3 separate regions of the Homo sapiens genome follow, and all the other regions are reported to be linked to region 2. The links are microRNA targets in miRTarBase. Many come from high-throughput screens and were not tested one by one. Region 2 holds a microRNA gene; each other region holds the end of a gene's coding sequence. Distances are from middle to middle.

What was found. The annotated mature microRNA hsa-miR-6799-5p reads GGGGAGGUGUGCAGGGCUGG and lies in region 2 at 2,049-2,068, opposite strand. An mRNA with a match to its seed (bases 2 to 7 or 8) in the 3' UTR can be bound and repressed. Matches are read on the target gene's strand: a 7mer-m8 pairs with bases 2 to 8, a 7mer-A1 pairs with bases 2 to 7 and ends in A, and an 8mer does both.
Region 1: the mRNA of ZNF560 is a reported target of hsa-miR-6799-5p. The part of its 3' UTR that is shown has no 7-base or 8-base seed match.
Region 3: the mRNA of DNAH9 is a reported target of hsa-miR-6799-5p. The part of its 3' UTR that is shown has no 7-base or 8-base seed match.

The regions. Positions count from the first base shown.
Region 1 is chr19:9,460,401-9,467,498 of GRCh38, forward strand. ZNF560 (zinc finger protein 560) reads right to left here. Exons shown (of 10, transcript NM_152476.3): 10 at 5,955-7,098. The coding sequence ends at 6,174. It overlaps LOC105372269 (a long non-coding RNA gene), which reads left to right. Exons shown (of 3, transcript XR_007067133.1): 3 at 1,626-2,129. Among named protein-coding and RNA genes, the nearest start is that of ZNF266, 28 kb to the left of the region's middle.
Region 2 is chr19:49,786,818-49,793,938 of GRCh38, reverse strand. It overlaps MIR6799 (microRNA 6799), which reads right to left and starts at 2,073; the gene lies at 2,005-2,073. AP2A1 (adaptor related protein complex 2 subunit alpha 1) reads right to left here. Exons shown (of 23, transcript NM_130787.3): 5 at 1,875-2,004; 6 at 847-948.
Region 3 is chr17:11,969,108-11,976,205 of GRCh38, reverse strand. It overlaps DNAH9 (dynein axonemal heavy chain 9), which reads right to left. Exons shown (of 69, transcript NM_001372.4): 69 at 6,458-6,906. The coding sequence ends at 6,679. Among named protein-coding and RNA genes, the nearest start is that of ZNF18, 25 kb to the left of the region's middle.

The DNA of each region.
Region 1 (7,098 bases), 40 Mb from region 2:
ACAAAAAGAGCAATTATACTCATTGGGCATATTTACCTTTTCCACCACTTCTATGGCCTGTAACTTGGCTGGACCCCCCAGTGGAGGTATACACTAATAATAGCTCTTGGATGCCTGGTCCTACAGATGATAGAGGCCCATCTCACCCACACAGGGAAGGAACTGTTATGAGTATTTCTTTAGGATTTAAGCATCCGCCCATCTGTTTGGGAAAGGCCACTAGTTGCCCACCCCCTCAGTATCAATCTTGGCTGGCAATAATGCCTGGACGTAATCACTCTATGGCAGTTACACATGCTTTCTGGTGTCAGTATTTACCATAATGAATCTGCTCCTCTAATTGAGGCATACCGCCCTCAAAAACCTATTTGTAAACAGGATTGGACCCGGTCAGAAAAAATGAATGTACTCATTTGGGAAGATTGCATTGCAGGACAGGCAGAGGTGCTGCATGATTCCTATGGAATCATTATTGATTGGTCCCCTAAGGGGATGTTTAGCATGAATTGCACCTCTGTCTGCATGTGATGGCCACACTATGTTCAGCTGGTCTGAATAAAACGATCAGATGGTAAAAATGATAAGAAGTACCGCAAGAGTTCCTATTATCTGGAAACATGACGGTATAGTGGCACCTCAACCTCAAATGATATGGCCCGCTGTAGGAGCTAAACATAAGGATTTGTGGAAACTATTAATAGCTTTTGATAAGATCAAGATTTGGGAAGGAAAATATACTATGCCATCACAATATAATCCTAATTACATTTTAGAACTTGTTGAAAATAATACAATTTGGATACAAAGTTGTGTTCACCCTCCTTTTGTTGGTAATGGGCGATCTAAAGTTTGACACCCCTAATTATCATGTAACTTGCCAGGAAGGTAGATTGTCCTCTTGTGTGAACTCTTCCTTGTTTAATACTAATCATTCTATACTAGCAGTGAGAGCTCAAGAAGGAGTTGGTTACCGGCGAAGCTTTCCCATCCTTGGGAACCCTCTCCCTCTGTACATATTATTACTAAATTCTTCAGAAAATTCTAAGAAGTTCTCAGTGTTTCATTGCTACTTTAATCTTGATTATTATGGGACTGATTGCTGTCACAGCTACTGCTGCAGTAGCTGGAGTGGCACTACATTCATCAGTGCAGACAGCAGATTTTGTAAATAATGGCAAAAGAATTCTACTCTGCTGTGGAACTCTCAAACTAAAATAGACCAAAAGATAGTTAATCAAATCAATGATCTCCAACCAACTGTAATGTGGGTGGGAGATCAAGTAGCTAGTTTGGAATATGGAATGCAGCTGAAATGCGACTGGAATACTTCTGACTTTTGTATCACTCCTCACCCTTATAATGAATTAGACCATGAATGGGAAAGAATAAAAAAAAGTATCTGGAAGGACACTCTACAAACTTGTCTTCGGATGTTGCAAAATTAAGAGAACAAATATTTCAAGCATCCCAGGCACACCTGACCTTAATGCCAGGAACTGGAGTGCTTGAAGGAGTTGCAGATGGATTGGCAGCCATAAATCCTATGAAATGCATAAAAACACTTGGAGGCTCTGTGATTTCTATGATGGTTGTGCTATTAATCTGTGTTGTTTGTCTTTGTGTAGTCTGCAGATGCGGATCCTGACTCCTGCAAGAAGTAGCTCACTGTGATAAAGCCGCCTTTGCTTTTATTGCCCTGGTAAAACAAAAAGGGGGACATGCTGGGAATAGGCCCCAAGCCTGGCCATAAACAAGCCATAAGAAAAGTCATAAACAAGATCTCTGCAGCACTGTGACATGCTCGTGATGGTTATGATGCACACACTGGAGGTTGCTGGTTCACCAGAATGAGGGCAAGGAACACCTGGCCCACCCAGGGCGGAAAACTGCTCAAGGTGTTCCTAAACCACAAACAATGGCATAAGCAATCTGTGCCTTAATGACATGCTCCTGCTGCAGATAACAAGCCAGAGCCTGTCCCTTTGTTCTCCTTAAAGAATACTTTCAGTTAATCTACAAACTACAGAAACGATGTTTATCACAGGCTGTCAATAAATAGGTGGGTCAAACTCTGTTCGAGGCTCTCAGCTCTGAAGGCTGTTAGCCCCCTGATCCCACTTTGCACTCTATTTCTGTCTATGTCTTTATTCCTCTAGTGCTGCTGGATTGTGGTCTCCATGACCGACCTGGTCTTGGCAAATATTACATGCCAATGTTAATAATATTTTTAAAAAATCTTTACACTATAGGTATATAAAATATTCTAGCAAAAAAAAAAGTTAATCCATTATACTCAAACTGCATTTTTCTGGAATTACAAAGATAATATAACATTGGAATGTCAATCAGTTATCTTTCCACATTTTAAAAAAACTTTTATTTACTTACACATTTAAATATTAGGTATCTATCAAGGGCAAGTACAGTCAGTCCTAGGTACCTGAATTTTCTGAGTAAGGCAAGATCATCAAAGAGGAATCAGGGAAAAGCATTCAATAAATTCTTAAGCCATTCATGGGAAAGATTCCCTAAGCAATGAAAAGTAGAAAAAAACCTTGACCTTTTAAAAATCTACAGCAACCAATACAGTGATTAGTAATGATGGAAAACATCTGCCATTAGGATTAGAAATAAAAGTATGCTTGTTTTACTACTTCTAGTTATTATTCTAGTATTTTCTGCCTAGACAAGACATAAATGACTGAAGGTTACAAGTTAAGTCAGTTACAGATAATATGAAATGTGGAAAACCCAAAATACATAAAACTAGGATGTTAAAGAATGTTGAACAAGGCTTCTAGTAAAATTCAGTATACAAAGATCAAGTGATTTTATATAAACAATCAGAAATCAGCTTCTAAAAAAAATAAAAAAGGAAATCAGCTTCTGAAGCTAGGCAATTTCTAGGCTGTGAGACTAGGGTATCATTTCTTAGTGATACATCACTATTAGTCCAAGCACCAGGATGAGGCCAACCTACAGTATTGACCTCACCTGTGACCCACAAGTGCTCATACTCCAACAACTGTGAAAAAGTTTCAGGAATAACCTATAGGTTTTATTTGAGACAATCAGGATGGCATCTAAGGACAGTCTGTGAGGTGACAGAAGTCACACAAGGCAATTAAGACTAATCTGCGTCTTTTGTGTCACTGGTAACAGTTAAACGCAACAAAGATGGGTTAAAATAATCACACTCATACCACAAGAGAACCACTCTGAAACCCTTTCCTCTCCATAAGAAAACATGTAACATGAAAATGCATGGACCTCAATTCAGTTTTTTTGGTTTTGTTTTGTTTTTGAGACAAGGCCTCTGTCACCCAGGTTGGAGTCCAATGGCACGATCTGAGCTCACTGCAGCCATGACCTCCCTGGGGTCAGTGAGACACCTATCTCAGCCTCCTGAGTAGGTTGGACTACAGGCACGTGCCATCACACCAGGCTAATCTTTACATTTTTTGTAGAGATAGGGTTTTGCCATGTTGCCCGGGCTGGTCTTGAACTCCTGAGCCCAAGTGATCCGCCTGACTTGGCCTCCCGAAGTGCTGGGATTACAGGCATAAGCTATTACACCCAGCTGATTCAGGATTGGTAAACTTACCTGAAGCTTTGGATTACCATTACACTGGCTGGATTAAGAACCACAGAAAGAATCACCAAGAAACAACAGCCTTAATTGCTGTACATGATATAACAGAAATATTTAAATTTGTACCACTCAGACTGGAACCTGGTTATGCAGCTTGTGCGTGTGTGTGTATTCCAGGGCCATGTTCAGGAAGTGCTAGTGATGGTGTCAAGCACAGCAGAATATCATGATCATCCATGTTCACAGGAGTTTTTCTGTTTTCATAGCACATGGGCAAAATGAAACCCCAGAAATAGGTCATACTGCCAATCATAGCAGTTAACTGAGTCAGGCATATATGACTGCTTTGCCAAACAGTGGCATCAAAGACAACATTCGTGGTTCCCACCACCTCTCTGCACTGCCTGATAGTACAAGAGTTCCCACCTCTCCAGGTGAAGGGTTATGGGTGTCCCTCCACGGCCATGAAATCACGGTATCTTAAGTTACTATCTGTTAGTGCACCCTTTCTCCACTCAGACCCTTCTTCAACCCTGACCATTTATCTGAAAAGATCAGGTTTGAAAAGAGGAACAAGAGTATTTTTACATTTTAAAGCTGTATTATAACTTTTACCTTGGCCAGTGTGAGCCACTACAGGTGGACCATGTCTAAAAATATGACAAACCAAAAAGAGAATCTACACTGTTAAAACAGGATTGTCTGAATCCTGAAGGCCCACTTTAGGTCAGTTGTAACCCAGAGGATGTATAGCAACTAGAGTGGTGTTGCTATAGGAGAAAGACATACCATGCCAGGAATGAGCAGCGGGGTGTAAGAAACTTCCAAAATAGTTCTATAGAACCACCCAGAAAGCCAGGCTTTGACAGGTTTCAGAGAAGCAATCCTGATATTCCATACATGCCCAGTTTCTCATAAGTGTGAATGCCCCTCATATTCACTAAAGGACGAAGAATATAAAAAATTACTTTCCAACATTTATTACCTTCATGAAGTTTTTCTCCACTATAAAATTACAGGTAAACACCAAAGTATTTGGCAAGAATAAAACTTCTGAACATATCTTACATCAAACATCTTACATAAAAAGGGTTTATCTCCATTCCAAGAACCCAAGGAAACAGTGAAAGCTATTGATTTTTTTTTTTTTTTTTTTTGAGATGGAGTCTCGCTCAGTCGCCAGGCTGGAGTGCAGTGGCATGATCTTGGCTAACTGTAACCTCTGCCTCCCTGGTTGAAGCGACTCTCCTGCCTCAGGCTCTTGAGTAGCTGGGATTACAGGGGTGTACCACCATGCCCAGCTAATTTTTGTATTTTTAGTAGAGACAGGGTTTCACCATGTTGGCCTGGATGGCCTGGATAGTCTCGATCTCTTGACCTCGTGATCCACCTGCCTCAGCCTTCCAAAGTGCTGAGATTATAGGCATGAGCCACTGCGCCTGGCCAGCTCTCTATGTTTCTAACATTGTACAGCTTCAGGATGAACTCTTACACAGTGTATTGTCAGCAGATTCCAACGGTTCTCCCACATGCCTTTAACTTTATGGAGCATCATCAGAGTGTAAGTTCTTTCCTATCTTTGAAGTGAACAGGGACAAATGAGCACTTTGACACAGTGCTTACATTGTTTTCTCACCAGTGTGAATTACAATGTGACTATTAAGGCATATGGACTTCCAAAAGGATTTTCCTCATTCCTTACATAAAATGGGTTTCTTGGCCAGGCGCGATGGCTCACACCTGTAATTCTACCACTTTGGGAGGCCAAGGCGGGCAGATTACCTGAGGTCAGGACTTCAAGACCAGCTTGGCCAAAATGTTGAAACCCCGTCTCTACTAAAAATACAAAAAATCAGCCAGGTGCAGTGGTGTGTGCCTATAATCCCAGCTACTCGGGAGGCTGAGGCAGGAGAATCGCTTGAACCCAGGAGGCGGAGGTTGCAGTGAGCCGAGATCATGCTACTGCACTCCAGCCTGGGCTACAGAGTGGGACTTCATCTCAAAAACAAACAAACAAAAAAACATGGTTTCTCTCCATGGTGTTTCTACACGTTCAGTAAGATGAGAAGAATGCCAGGTGCAGTGGCACACACCTGTAATCCCAGCATTTTGGGAGGTGGAAGCACATGATCACATGAGGTCAGGAGTTTGAGACTAGCTTGGCCAACATGGTGAAATTCTGTCTCTACCAAAAATATAAAAAATTAGCCAGGTGTGGTGGTGCATGCCTGTAATCCCAGCTACTCAGGAGACTAAAGCAGGAGAATTGCTTGAACTTGGGAGGCAGAGGTTGCAGTGAGCCAAGATCATGCCACTGCACTCCAGCCTAGGTGACAGAGTGAGACTCATCAAAAAAAAAAAAAGAGAGAGAGAAGAACTAGTGTTTTCCTACATCCCTTACATTTACAGGGTTTCTCTACAGTGTGAGTTTGTACATATCTAGAAAGATTCAACTGTTCAGGCTTTCTCACATTCCTTACATTGATAGTGTTACTTTCTCCTGTGAATTTTTACATGTTCAGTTAGGCTTGAGGAAACAGCAAAGGTTTTTCCACATTCTTCACATCCACAGGGCTTCTCTCTAGTGTGTTTTCAAATGTGCAATACGAGCTGAGAAAGAAGCAAAGGCTTTCCCACACTGGTCACATTCAAAGGGTTTCTCTCCCATATGAGTTCTTAAATGTTGAATACGTCCTGAGGATGTACGGAAGGCCTTCCCACATTCCTTACATTTATAGGGCTTCTCTCCAGTGTGAATTCGCACATGATTAGTAAGATCTGAATGACAAGTGAAGGCTTTCCCACAGTCCTTACATTTATAGGGTTTTATTTTGGTGAGAGTTTTTAAGCGATCATGAAAGCACATGGAATTTCGAAAGGAATTTCCACATGCGTTACATTCAGAGGTCTTCTCTGCTGCATGAGTTTTTAAGTGTTGAGTTAGTACACAAGACCTACTGTAAGCTTTTTCACATGCATTACATTTATAGGGTTTATATCCAGTGTGAGTTCTTAAATGATCAACTAGACTGGAGGAGACAACAAAGGCTTTCCCACAGTCCTTATATTCATAGGGCTTATCTCCAGTGTGTCTTCGTAAATGTTTAGTAAGATCTGAGCGTTCTGTGAAGGCTTTTCCACATTTCTTACATTCATATGGCTTCTCTCCACTGTGTCTTCGTAAATGTTTAGTAAGGTATGAGCGCTCAGTGAAGGCTTTCCCACATTTCATACATTCATAGGGTTTCTCTCCAGCGTGTGTTCGTAAATGTTTGGTAAGATATGAGCACTTAGTGAAAGCTTTACCACATTTCTTACATTGATAGAGTCTCTCTTCTGTGTGAGTTCGCATGTGAATACGAAGACAGGCAGAAGAGGTAAATGGTTTCCCACATTTGTAACACTTAAAGGGCTTCTCACCAGTGTGAGTTCTCAAATGAGCAAAAAGAGATGAGAAAGAAACAAAGACTTTCCCACACTGGTCACAATCAAAGCGTTTCTGTCCT
Region 2 (7,121 bases):
GAGACTCCGTCTCAAAAAAAAAAAAAAAAAAAAAAAAAAAGAAACAATGAGTGGATGCACGAGCTGGTGTGTTCTTCTCTTTGCCTGCGAATCCAGGCCTCTTCCTGACTGCCCAGGAGATGCGCATGTGTATTCTAAGTCTCAATTCTGGGATCGCCGCCCCCAGGAAGCCTTCGTGGACTCACAGGCTGTGTTAAGTGCCTCCTATGGGTGACCTATCCTACCTCCATTATAGCACGAGTCACCCCTTTTCTGACAATCTGTGACTGAGTCACCTCCCTGCCAGAAGGACAGGGAGCTCCTTAAGAGCAGAGCTTGGTTCTGACTCATCTGTGTCCCTGGTGTCACCCGACATGGAGCCTGGCATGCACAAGGCCTCAGGGGATGTTCCTGGGCAGGACAGGAGCAAAGGTGGGAGAGGGACGCCAGGCAGGAGTGAGAGGCTGCACAGGAAAGAGAGAGGCGGGAGGCAAAGCCAGAAGAGGGAAAGTGGGAGACAGAGAGAGAAGTGGGAGAGGGAGGAGGTCATGAGGGCGGCTGGCTCCCGGGGTGCTCGGCCCGCGAGGCCCTGTTCTGAGCACTCTATCCACAGCGCTCTGTGCCTCCAGGTGGGCACCGGTATTATCCCCACTGAACACAGGGGGCAGCTGAGGCCAGGGAGGTGAAGCCACTTGTCCAGGGCCACCCAGCCAGGAAGAGGCCGAGCCAGGATGAATCCAGCTCAGAGCCTGAGTTTGTAAACCTTGGGCTGGGCTGCCTCTCAGGGAGAGTGGGGGCCTGAGGGGTGTCAGAGGGCATAGGGATGCCAGGGCCACCTCCAGCAGCCAATATCTAGGCCACACCCACCCGGCTCAGGCGCGACACAGCCAGAGAGACGCACGTCTTGAAGTCATCTGGGTTCTTCTTGCAGAGACAGGTGATGAGGCTGACGGCGGCCGTGACCACACCCTGCAGGGGCAGAGGAGAGACAAGTCAGGCCCCTGGGGGAGGTGGTACCTGAGAGCAGAGGCTCAGGAGCGGGACAGGGTCGGGATGTGTGTGCAGTCGGGAAGATGGGGTTTAGGGGTGTGCACATGTGTCACTGTGCGTGCTTTAGGGGTGGGGTGAGGAGGCCACGGGGCCTCGGGCGCCATGGCCAGCACTGACCTGGGTGTGTGGGGTGTCCCTGGCAGGACCCCAGGCAGCTGGGTAAGGAGCAGTGAAGGGGCGAGACTCTAGAGGGTTGGGACTGTGGGGGTGGGACAGTCAAGGTTTCTGCGCTGGTGCGCAGGTGATGGGCGCTGTTGGGGGAATCTCCAGGTATTAGAAACAGAGTGGGATTTTCTAAGGGACTGGGTGGTTGGTGAGGGGTGTGGGGGTCACTGGACAGGATCCCTGGCCAGCCAGGGGAGTGTCAGAGATGGGGATGGGAGGGTTTCTGGACACTTGGGCAGGTAATGAGTACCGGGGACACTGGATCATGGTTTCTGGTGTCTGGTGAACGTCAGCGCCGAGGGGGAAGCTCCAGGAATCCAGGGGGATCAGGGCTGAGGTGGGAGCCCCAGGCATCCAGGGGGCGTGAGGGCTGAGGTGGGAGCCCTGGGTATCCGGGGGCGTGAGGGCTGAGGTGGGAGCCCTGGGTATCCGGGGGCGTGAGGGCTGAGGTGGGAGCCCTGGGCATCCAGGGGGCGTGAGGGCTGAGGTGGGAGCCCTGGGTATCCGGGGGCGTGAGGGCTGAGGTGGGAGCCCCGGGCATCCAGGGGGTGCGTGGGCTGAGGTGGGAGCCCTGGGTATCCGGGGGTGTGAGGGCTGAGGTGGGAGCCCCGGGCATCCAGGGGGGTCAGGGCTGAGGTGGGAGCCCTGGGTATCCGGGGGTGTGAGGGCTGGGGGCTCACCATGTGCTGGTCATTGAGCAGGTGTACCACACGCGCCGTCCACTCGCCCATGGGCACCAGGTCAGGCGAGGCCTTGTACAGTCGAAGGAGGCACAGGGCCGCACTCTGCTTGACACTGTCCATGCTGTCCCTGTGGGGACACCATGCAGGGCAGGGGAAGCAGAGTCAGTGACCCCAGCCCTGCACACCTCCCCTCCTCTCCTGTTCCTCCCAGGAAGGGTGTGCGAGGCCAGCGAGAGGGACAGACAGCCAGGCGGCCGCAGGATCCAGTCTGGCGCTGACCTCACGGCCCACCAGGACTCAGTGTCTTCATCTGCAAAATGATTGCATCTCAGTAACCTCACAGGGCTCAGGAACATGTCAAGCCTGGCTCTGCACCTTCATTCATTCACCAAGCACCTACTGGGTGCCCATGGGGTACCAGGCACTGCTGTTCACTCCATGGATAGAGTGGTGAATAAAGTGGTCCAAACACTTGTCCTCACAGGGCTTACATTTCAGACAGCACCACGAAAACACATACATCAAATACTGTCAGGGCTGGGCATGGTGGCTCACGCCTATAATCCCAGCACTTTGGGAGGTCGAGGTGGGAGGATCACTTGAGGCCATGAATTCAAGACCAGCCTGGGCGACAGTGAGACCCAGTCTCTTCAAAAATACAAAAATTAGCTGGGTGTGGTGGCGCAGGCTTGTAATCCCAGCTACTCGGGAGGGTGAGGTGGGAGGATTGCTCGAGACTGGGAGGTCGAGGCGGCAGTGCACCATGACTGTGCCACTGCACTCCCTCTAGCTTGGGCAACAGAGTTAGAGCTGTCTCTAAATAAATAAAAAAATTTAAAAATAAACAAAACAGAGTAACTTAAGGAGGAAAGACTGAAAATCCTCTGCAACAGAACATCCCAGGCAGAGGGAACAGCCTGTGCCAAGGCCATCAGGAAGGCGGAGCCCGTGTGTAGGAGGAGCAGCAAGGAGGCCTGCAGGCTGCGGCCTGAGCCATGGGGCAGGAGGGCTGCAGATAGGACAGGGAGGGAACAGAGAGCCAGACCCTGCAGGGCCTTGTTGGCTGAAGTGAGGACTTGGCTTTTTACCGATTGGGAGATGAAAGCCGCTGTGGGTGGTGAGCAGAGAATCAGCGTGATGTTAACACGACAGCAGGAACAGCTGCCCCCGGACCCCTTCGGCCTGTCCAGCACTCCCACAGGTCTCTGGGTGGATTCACACGTTTATCTTCTCTCCACAACAAACTGAGAAAATGGGTGTATTTTTGATCTGGCTTAGGTTTTTAAAGGGTCCCTCTGCCTGTTGTGAGGGAACAGACTTTGCAAGGCTCTTTTGAATCCAAGGGAATATATTCACAGGTTCTGGGGGTTAGGGTGGCTCACGCCTGTAATCCCAGCACTTTAGGAGGCTGAGGTGGGAGAATCACTTGAGCCCAAGAGTTGGAGACCAGCCTGGGCAACATGGTGAGACCCCCATCTCTACTAGAAATATGAGAATTAGCCAAGCGTGGTGGCGCATGCCTGTAGACCCACCTACTTGGCAGGCTGAGGTGGGAGGATCGCTTTAGCCTGGGAGGTGAAGGCTGCAGCCTGGGTGGCAGAGCAAGACCCTGTCTCCAAACAAAAAAAAGGGTGGGGGTACTTTGCAGATATGATAAAGTTAAGGATCATGAGATGGAGAGAGGATCCTGGGTGATCCAGGTGGACCCAATGTCATCACAGGGTCCTTATAAGGGAAAGATACAGTTCAGAGTCAGAGATGATGTGAGGATGGAACAGAGGTCAGGCAGGAGAGAAGATGCCACACTGCTGCCTTTGGGGATGGGGGAAGGGGCCACGAGCCAAGGAAAGCAGGTGGCCTCTAGGAGCTGGAGAAGGCAAGGACGCGGCCTCTCCTCTAGGGCCCCCGGAAGGGACGAGCCCTGCCCACGCCTTGATTTTAGCCCCGTGAGATGGATGTTGGACTTCCGACATCCAGAACCGGTGTTTGACACCGCTGTGCTGGTGGTAATTCATCACAGCAGTCACAGGAAACCAGGGTCAGCACTTGCCTGGCACAGAACCTGGCAGCCAGCGGGCAGCCCATCTCAGAGGGCTGACTCCAGGCCCCAACCATAACCCAGCTCCTAGCACAGCAAAGAGCATGGAGCATGATGTTGTTCTAGAAGAGGATCCCAGGGGAGCACCTTCTGGGGTCAGACACGCCTGCATGAGGTTGTGACTGTGGGGCACAGATGGGGGTAAGCCACTGACCCTCTCTGATGGGCTGTTTCCCCTTCAGGAAAATGAGGAGCCTTGTCGGCTTTGGGGAGAAAGAAATAAGATGGTGGGCCAGGCATGGTGGCTTACACCTGTAATCCCAACACTTTGGGAGGCTGAGGCAGGCGGATCACTTGAGGCCAGGTGTTTGAGACCGGCCTGGCCAGGCCAACGTGGTAAAACCCTGTCTCTACAAAAAAAAAAAAAAAAAAAGGCCAGGCGCAGTGGCTCACACCTATAATCCCAGCACTTTGGGATGCTGAGGCAGGTGGATCACCTGAGGTCAGGAGTTTGAGACCAGCCTGGCCAACATGGTGAAACCCCATCTCTACTAAAAATACAAAAATTAGCTGGGCATGGTGGCACGTGCCTGAAATCCTAGCTACTCGGGAGGCTGGGGCAGGAGAATCGCTTGAACCTGGGAGGCAGAGGTTGCAGTGAGCTGAGATCTCACCATTGCACTTCAACCTGGGAGACAGAGTGAGACTCCGTCTCAAAAAAAAACAGAAATGAGATTGTGTGGTGCATGGCCATAGCCTTGAGTAAGAGGAGGTGCTGGGAGCTGTCAAGACTGGCCCAGCCATGGCCTATCAGTAAAGGGTTTCCCAGAAAGCACCCAACAGACAGCAAAAGACACAGGGGAGAAGTCCTCAGAGGGGAGACCTGCACGAGTCAAAGGCCTGTGGCAGCATGTCTCACTGGATGTGCAGCCACCCAGCAGGTGGCTCCTGCCGTCATCCAGGCAGATACTCGCCCGACTGACGCCTGTTGCTACGGCCTCCTAAAGTGCTGGGAACCCTCGTGTGCTGCAGCTGGAGGCGGACACAGGGACAGGCCCTCTGGAGAGGCTCTGGGCTTCCTCTGTCTAGAAAGGCCACTGCTGTGTGTGCAGCAGACCAAGACCAGCAGTGCTGCCCCCAGACGCTCACCCTACAGAAACGTTCACTGCCCAGTGGTCATCAAGTTAGAACCAGAAACCAGCAAGAAGCCTGGCCACAGACGATGCTCCATTTGTGACGGCACTTTCCCACCTCCGTCACAGCGCACATCTCCCGAGCCCTGACTCCAGGCCACTTTCCCATCTCCGTCACGGCGCGCATCTCCCGAGCCCTGACTCTGGGCCACCTTCCCATCTCTGTCATGGCGCTCATCTCCCGAGCCACAGTGCATCTCCCGAGCCCTGACTCTGGGCCACTTTCCCATCGCTGCCACGGCGCACATCTCCTGAGCCACAGCGCATCTCCCGAGCCCTGACTCTGGGCCACTTTCCCATCGCTGCCACGGCACACATCTCCTGAGCCACAGCGCATCTCCCGAGTCCTGACTCTGGGCCAAACTCTGCTCTAAGTGTTCCCGCACAGCTCGCTCGCTCCCCACCACAGCCCTCTAAGGACGCGGATTCTATCATCTCCATTTACAGATAAGGATACCACACAAAGGAATAAGAGCTATTTATCAACTTGGTTAAGTGGAATAAGGGCTATGGCGCTACTTAGGAAAATGTTAAACTACACAATATCAAGCTGCATATTCAAGTATAAAAAATAAAACCACAAGTCAGGCGCGGTGGCTCACGCCTGTAATCTCAGCACTTTGGGAAGCTGAGGCCACGGAGGATCACTTGAGCTCAGGAGTTCAAGACTAGCCTGGGTAATATAGTGAGACCCTGTCTCTATAAAAAATTCAAATATTAGCCAGGCCTGGTGGCTTGTGCCTGTAGTCCCGGCTGCTGGAGTGGCTGACGTGGGAGGATCACCTGAGCCTGGGAGGTCAGGGCTGCAGTTAGCTATGATCATGCCACTGCACTCCAGCCTGGGCAGCAGAGTGAGACTCTATCTCGAGCAAATCACGGATATGCACCACAATGTGGATGAACCTGAAAAACATCTTGTTGAGTGGAAGAAGCCAGACACAGAAGGCCACCTACTGTGCGGTTCCATTTCTATGAAATGTCCACATTAGGCAAATCTGTGACAGAAAGCAGATTGGTGGCAGCCAGGGGCTGGGGGGAAGAGGGAATGGGGAGGGACTGCTAATGGGTACAGAGTCTTTTTTTGGAGCAATGAGTGTTCTGCAATTAGGTGGTAGTGGTTGTTGCACAGCATCATCAATATACTAGAAACCACTGAACTGAACACCTTCAAATGGTTAAAATGACCGGGCGCAGAGGCTCACGCCTGTAATCCTAGCACTTTGGGAGGCTGAGGCAGATGGATCAATAGAGGTCAAGAGTTTGAGACCAGTCTGGCCAACATGGCAAACCTCGTCTCTACTAAAAAAAAAAAAAAAATAGCCAGGTGTGGTGGCACACACCTGTAATCCCAGCTACTCAGGAGGCTGAGACAAGAGAATTGCTTGAACTTGGGAGGCAGAGGTTGCAGTGAGCCAAGATTGCACCACTGCACTCCAGCCTGGGTGACAGAGAGAGACTGCCTCAAAAAAAAAAAAACAAAAAACAAAAAAAACAAACAAAAAAAGCCTAGATGGGAGTGGTGGCTCACACCTGTAATCCCAACACTTTGGGAGGCTGAGGCAGGAGGATTGCTTGAGCTCTGGAGTTCAAGACCAGCCTGGAGCCTGGGCAACATAGCAAAACCCCATCTCTACAAAAAAAAAAAGAAATACAAAAATTAGCCAGGCATGGTGGTGCACGCCTATAATCACAGCTACTCAGGGGGCTGAGGTGGGAAGATCGCTTCAGCCCAGGAGTCGGAGGTTGCAGTGAGCCAAGACTGTGCCACTGCACTCCAGCCTGGGCAACAGGGCAAGACCCTGTCTCCAAAAAATAAAAAGTTAAATAAAAGTCTACCTACAAAATAAAGTTCCTTCGTGCCCCAGTCACTGCTGAGGCCAAGTTTCCAGTGTGGAGGGGGCAGCCTAGAGCCAGACAGCCCCACCCTGGCCCCTTGACCCTGGCAGAGCACCACCCCTCGGCATCCACTCCAGGGACAATGTCATCTGCACCCACACATGTTGGCCACGGTGG
Region 3 (7,098 bases), not on the chromosome of region 2:
TATAAAAGGACTAAGAATTGGGAGGACCTAGGACATCTAATTAGAGAGTGCCTATGGAGGTTCAGCATAGTCCTGCCAGCAAAGATTATTTATTCAAGAGTTAAGAGTGGCAGTTTGGGGATAGGACGAGGAGATATCAGCTGTGATGGCTTGGAGAAACAGTGTAAACCGGCAGTGTAAACAAGAGCAGGGCATGTATGAGTAGTTGAGAATGGTGAATAGGAGTATGACTAGACGGAAGATAGTAGGGATGACAAGTTATTTGGGGGCATAGTCGAAGTTGGTCTGGTGTCTGGAATGAGACTGGGGCCTAATAAAAAGGAGCGTCTATACAGGAGCTTAAATGGGCTGTACCTTGTAGCATTCTGAGGACAGGTCTGACTTCTGAGAAGGGAAAGTGGTAAAAGTATTGTCCAGTCCTTTTTAAGTTGGTGGCTGAGCTTGGTGAGGTGTGTTTTTAATAGACCATTAGTCTGTCACTGAATACTAAGAGCCTGAAAAAATGCTTGGCTGATTTGACTAATAAAGGCTGGTCTGTTATCAGACTGTATAGAGGTGGGAAGGCTAAACTGAGGAATTATGTCTGACAGAAGGGAAGAAATGACTACGGTGGCCTTCTCAGACCTTGTAGGAAAGGCCTCTAAAAGTATTAAAGCAGCGGCAGCCGCTGCACGCAGACATGAGGGCTAGGCTAAAACAGTAAGGTCAAGTTGTTTGGACAGAAAGGCTACAGGGTGCGGTCCTGGCTCTTGTGTAAGAATTCTGACTGCATTAACCATGCCTAGGAAGGAAAGGAGTTTGTTGTTTTGTAAGGGATTGAGGTTTGGGAGATTAATCAGACACGATCAGCAGGGAGAGCTCGTGTGTTTTTACGAGAATTATGCCGAGATAGGTAACAGATGAGGATGAAATTTGGGCTTGACTGAAGTAATGGGGGCTGTCTGTGAAGCCTTGCGGCAGTACAGCCCAGGTAATTTGCTGAACCTGATGAGTGTCAGGGTCAGTCCAAGTGAAAGCGAAGAGAGGCTGGGATGACAGGTACAAAGGAGTAGTAAAGAAAGCACGTTTGAGATCCAGAACAGAATAATGGATTGTGGAGGGAGGTATTGAGGATAGGAGAGTATATGGGTTTGGCATCATAGGGTGGATAGGCAAAACAATTTGGTTGATAAGGCATAGATCCTGAACTAACTTGTAAGGCTTGTCTGGTTTTAGGACAGGTAAAATGGGGGAATTGTAAGGAGAGTTTATAGGCTTTAAAAGGCCATGCTGTAGCAGGCGAGTGATAACAGGCTTTAATCCTTTCAAAGCATGCTGTGGGATGGGATATTGGCATTGAGCGGGGTAAGGGTGATTAGGTTTTAATGAGATGGTAAGGGGTGCATGATCGGTCACCAAGGAGGGAGTAGAGGTATCTTATACTTGTGGGTTAAGGTGGGGGATACAAGAGGAGGACGCAAAGGAGGCTTTGGATTGGGAAGAAGGGCAGCAATGAGATGTGGCTGTAGTCCAGGAATAGTCAGGGAAGCAGATCATTTGGTTAAAATATCTCGGCCTAATAAGGGAACTGGGCAGGTGGAGATAACTAAAAAAGAGTGCATAAAAGAGTGTTGTCTAAGTTGGCACCAGAGTTGGGGAGTTTTAAGAAGTTTAGAAACCTGGCTGTCAATACCCACAACAGTTATGGAGGCAAGGGAAACAGGCCCTTGAAAAGAAGGTAATGTGGAGTGGGTAGCCTCCATATTGATTAAGAAGGGGACGGACTTACCTTCCACTGTGAGAGTTACCTAAAGCTCGGCGTCCGTGATGGTCTACGGGGCTTCCGAGGCGATCAGGCAGCGTCAGTTTTCAGCCGGTAAGCCAAGAAGGAGTCAGTCAGAGAGCCCTGGGTCAGAGTTCCAGGGGCTCTGGGAGTGTCTGCCAGGTGAGTTGAACAGTCCGATTTCCAGTGGGGTCCCGTACAGATGGGACACGGCTTAGGAGGAATCCTGGGCTGCAGGCATTCCTTGGCCTGGTGGCCAGATTTCTGGCACTTGTAGTAAGCTCCTGGGGGAGGAGGTTCTGGAGGAACGCCTGGCTGCTGCAGTTCAGGCGTTTGGAAGTTCTTGTGTGCTGGAGATGTGGCTGGGGTTTGTCTCACAGTGGAGGCAAGGAATTGCAACTTTTTTCTGTTATTGTACACCTTGAAGGTGAGGTTAATTAAGTCCTGCTGTGGGGTTTGAGGGCCAGATTCCAATTTTTGGAGTTAATGTCGGGAGCAGATTGGGTAATAGAATGTATATTGAGAATAAGACGGCCTTTTGACCTTTTAGGGTCTGGGGCTGTGAAGCGCCTCAGGGTTGCTGCCAAACGAGCCATGAACTGGGTTTTTATATTTGGTGAAAAAGAGCCTAAACGCTATCTGATCTGGGATAAAGAAAAAGGAGCATTAACCTTGACTATGTCTTTAGCTCCAGCCACCTTTTTAAGAGTAAATTGCTGGGCAGGTGGGGGAGGGCTAGTCACGGAATGAAACTGTAAGCCGGAGCAGGTGTGAGGAGGGGAGGCGATAAAAGGATTATAGGGTGGAGGAGTGGAGGCTGAGGAAGAATTGGGACCTAGCTTGGCCAGGCGAGGAGGGGAGAGGTCAGATGGGTCTGTAGAAAAGGAAGATTAGAAAGACTCAGCGACGCTTGGGGTTGGGACTGAGGGGACAGGCGGGAGATTTGGGACGAGTTGCATTGGGCACAGAGACTAGGAATGGACTGATGTGTAAAAGAATGCCTGGACGTCAGGCATCTCAGACCATTTGCCCATTTTACGACAAGAATTAGTTAGATCTTGTAGGATGGAAAAATTGAAAGTGCCGTTTTCCGGCTATTTGGAACTACTGTGGAGTTTGTATTGGGGTCAAGCGGCATTGCAGAAGAAAATAAGACGCCTAGATTTTAGGTCAGGTGAGAGTTGAAGAGGTTTTAAGTTCTTAAGAATACAGGCTAAGGGAGAAGAAGGAGGAATGGAAGGTGGAAGCTTGCCCATAGTGAAGGAGGCAAGCCCATAGTGAAGGAGGCAAGCCCAGAGAAAAGAGAGCGTAGAGACACGGAGGGAAGGGGTTCGGGGGTTCTTACCTTCCAGAAAAGCGGGAGGGGGGGGTCGGGGCGCGGAAATAAGGCATTGGGGCGCAGAGATAAGGGATTGGGGCGCAGAGATAAGAGGTTGGGGCGTGGAAATAAGGGATTGGGACGCAGAGATAAGAGGTTGGGGCGTGGAAATAAGGGACTGGGGCGCAGAGATAAGAGGTTGGGGTGTGGAAATAAGGGATTGGGGCGCAGAGATAAGGGATTGGGGCGCAGAGACAAGAGGTTGGGGCGTGGAAATAAGGGACTGGGGCGCAGAGATAAGAGGTTGGGGTGTGGAAATAAGGGATTGGGGGGTTCTTGCCCCCTAGGAAAGCGGGACTTGCCGCTAAGGGTGAAGGAGAAGGGGTTGAGGGGTACTTGCCCCTGCCCCAGAAAAGCAGAGAAGGGGTAGAGACAAGAGAAGGGGTTGGGGTACTTGACCCTTCCCCAGAAAAGCGGGACTTGCCACTAAGGGTGAAGGACCAAGGCAGGCGTCCCTGTGTGGTCTGACACCCTTGAAATGTGAGTGTATAATCAGAGAGGTGTCCCTGCAATGATTAAACACCAAGGGAAGGCTGCCTTCCCAGTCCGTGACCGGCGCCGGAGTTTTGGGTCCACGGATAAAACGTGTCTCCTTTGTCTCTACCAGAAAATGAAAGGAATTGAAATTAAGAGAAGGGAGAGATTGAAGTGTGGCGCCAAGATTGAAAGGAGAAAGAGGTTGAGGGATAGTGAGGGAGGTTGGAGAAGAGAGTAAAAAGAGGCCACTTACCGGATTTGAGATTGGTGAGATGTTTCTTGGGCTGATCAGTCTGAGGACCTGAGGTCGTAGGTGGATCTTTCTCATGGAGCAAAGAGCAGGAGGACGGAGGATTGATCTCCCAAGGGAGGTCCCCCGATCCGAGTCACGGCACCAAATTTCATGTGCGTCCGTGTGAAGAGACCACCAAACAGGCTTTGTGTGAGCAACATGGTTGTTTATTTCACCTGGGTGCAGGTGGGCTGAGTCCGAAAAGAGAGTCAGCAAAGGGAGATAGGGGTGGGGCCGTTTTATAGGATTTGGGAAGGTAATGGAAAATTACAGTCAAAGGGGGTTGTTCTCTGGTGGGCAGGGGCGGGGGTCACAAGGTGCTCAGTGGGGGAGCTTCTGAGCCAGGAGAAGGAAATTCCCAGGGTTAATCATTCAGTTAAGTTGGGGCAGGAACAAATCACAATGGTGGAATGTCATCAGTTAAGGCGGGGCAGGGCCTTTTCACTTCTTTTGTGATTCTTCAGTTACTTCAGGCCATCTGGGCGTATAGGTGCAAGTCACAGGAGATGCGATGGCTTGGCTTGGGCTCAGAGGCCTGACAGTGAGACTTCCCCCTCCCACCATCTTCCACCTCCCACCATCTTCCACCTCCTTCTTTAGGCCTGATTTTTTTTTTTTTTTTTTTTTTTTGGTGAGACAGAGTCTTGCTTTGTCGCCAGGCTGGAATGCAGTGGTGCAGTGGCGTGATTTCGGCTCACTGCAACCTCCGACTCCCTGGTTCAAGCAATTCTCCTGCCTCAGCCTCCCGAGTAGCTGGGATTACAGGCACGCACCACCAAACTCAGCTAATTTTTGTATTAGTAGAGACGGGGTTTCACCATGTTGGCCAGGATGGTCTTGATCTCCTGACCTTGTCATCCGCCTGCCTCAGCCTCCCAAATTGCTGGGATTACAGGCATGAGCCGCTGTGCCCGGCCTGCCTGATGTTATTATACTACTATGGGTGAGGCTCAGGAAGGATGATGCTAATGTGGACAGAGTTATCTCCCTGAAAACAGATTAACCTATAGTCAGGAAACTGCAAGTGCATTACTAGTTGATGGGAGAGGAGGGACAACACCCAAGCTGGAGGTCCTGGCTTCCAGCAGTAAAATTTATTAACTCCCTTGTATCATGAAGATGAGAAGGCCCCACTTAGGGGGTGCAGGAACTGCAAGGAAGAAAGCAGGAAAATCATAGAGGAATTAGCATCAGATTCCATATTCTATATAGCAGAGATTTATAGGATGATGGGATTTGAGGTTTTAAATCACGAGTTCTCAAACTGGCCTCCAGACCAGCAGCATTGGCAATTTGTTTAAACTTACTGAATCAGAAATATTGAAGGGCGGGTCCCAGTAATCTTTGTTTTAACAAGCCCTCCAGGGGATTCTGATGCCTGTTCAAGTTTAAGAACCACTGTTCAAAACAGTAATCACAAAATTAAGTTTCTGCAAGGTTAGGAGGGAATAATCACAGAAGGAATACTGGGTCCTCCCATACTTTTCTTACCAAACAAGCTGCCTCATAGAGCTTTTTAAAACTCATCAAAACTGTTAAACCCATTGGACTTCCAGTGAAAATTTGTTCCACGGAGGTAAATCTAGAAAACTTTTAGATTAAAAAGCTTTAGAATGGCCAGGCGCGGTGGCTCACGCCTGTAATCCCAGCACTTTGGGAGGCTGAGGCAGGCACATCACCTGAGGTCAGGAGTTCAAGATCAGCCTGACCAACATGGTGGAACCCTGTCTCTACCAAAAATATAAAAATTAGCCAGGCATGTTGGCAGGCGCCTGTAATCCCAGCTAGTTGGGAGGCTGAGGCAGGAGAATCGCTTGAACCCAGGAGGTAGAGGTTGCAGTGAGCAGAGATTGCCCCAGTGCACTCCACCCTGGGTGACAGAGCGAGACTCCATCTCAAAAAAAAAAAAAAGGCTTTACAGTAAAGATTTCTTCTTGGCTTCCTCTTAAATGATCGAAAGGATGATGGAGATACTTCCTGTTTGCTTGTTCACATTGTATCCACAACAAATAGTAGGTGTCAGATTAAAATGTATTGAGTGGATGCATGAATTAATGAAGGATAAATATCAGTATACACATCCCTTATCCTCTACAGCAGGGATCAGCAAAATATGGCCCATTGCTTGTTTTTGTAAATAAAATTTGTTAGAATGCAATCACACCCCTTCATTTACTCATCATTTATGGTTACTGTTGGTCTACCACGGCAAAGTTGCAAAGTTCAAACAGAGGCATTGTGGCCTGTAAATCACTAAAAGTATTCACTAACTGGCTCTTTATGGAAAAATGTTGGTGACCCCTGCTCCAGGATAGTGTTTCTCAAACTATAATGTGCATACAGATTTTCCAGAGAGATTGTTAAAATGGAGATTCTGGTTCATGGGTGATGCCAATACCACTGGTCCAAGGACTGCGTGGGGTAGCCTGGAAGAAGAGCACCTAGGATAGTGTTGTGTAACAAGGTCAGGGCCCTTGTGGTTTGTTTCTCTTGGTCTCTACATGATCATTTATGATTCAGCAGCTCTCAAATCCTGGGCCAGACACAGTTGAAGAGTAAATCATTTTATTAAGAAACCTGGGCCCACATTCCTTCAGCTCAGCCTCACCTTAGGCACACCTCTCCAAGTTCCCTAGAGGAATTCTACAGAATTGTGAGTGCTCATGGTTTCTTACCGTTCTAAGTGTCTGTGGTGACCCTTCACCCACCTGTCCCTCTAGGCAGCCTCCAAGCCCAGCTTTTTTATTTTCTCGGTGGCTCTGCAGGATGCTAAATCTGGAGAAGCAAGGCTACTCCAGCCAGAACCCACTTGGATGGGTTTTCCTTAGTCTTCAGGTTGAAAGTCCACACGTAGGTGGGTCCCCGCTGACTAGTCTTGTACACAGGACAGGAATAGACACTGCGGCAGTCCTGCTTATCTGCAGGAATGGCCTTGATGAACATCACAGGCATAGGGGGTGTCAGATCCTTCAGCTTTGCCTCTGTAATGATCCCAGCCTGAGGATAAAACATGAGAAGAGGCACCTTAGATCAGACCCAGAGCCCAGCCAACCAGCCTTGCTCTTGTCAGCAGATCCAAGGGAGGAAAGACTGGACTGACATGGCTGCCTTTATGCCTGCCCCCTTCCAGGTTTTCTCAGCAGCCTTTGATGGAATGCATCTGATATGTAGAAACACGTTTCTATTTTT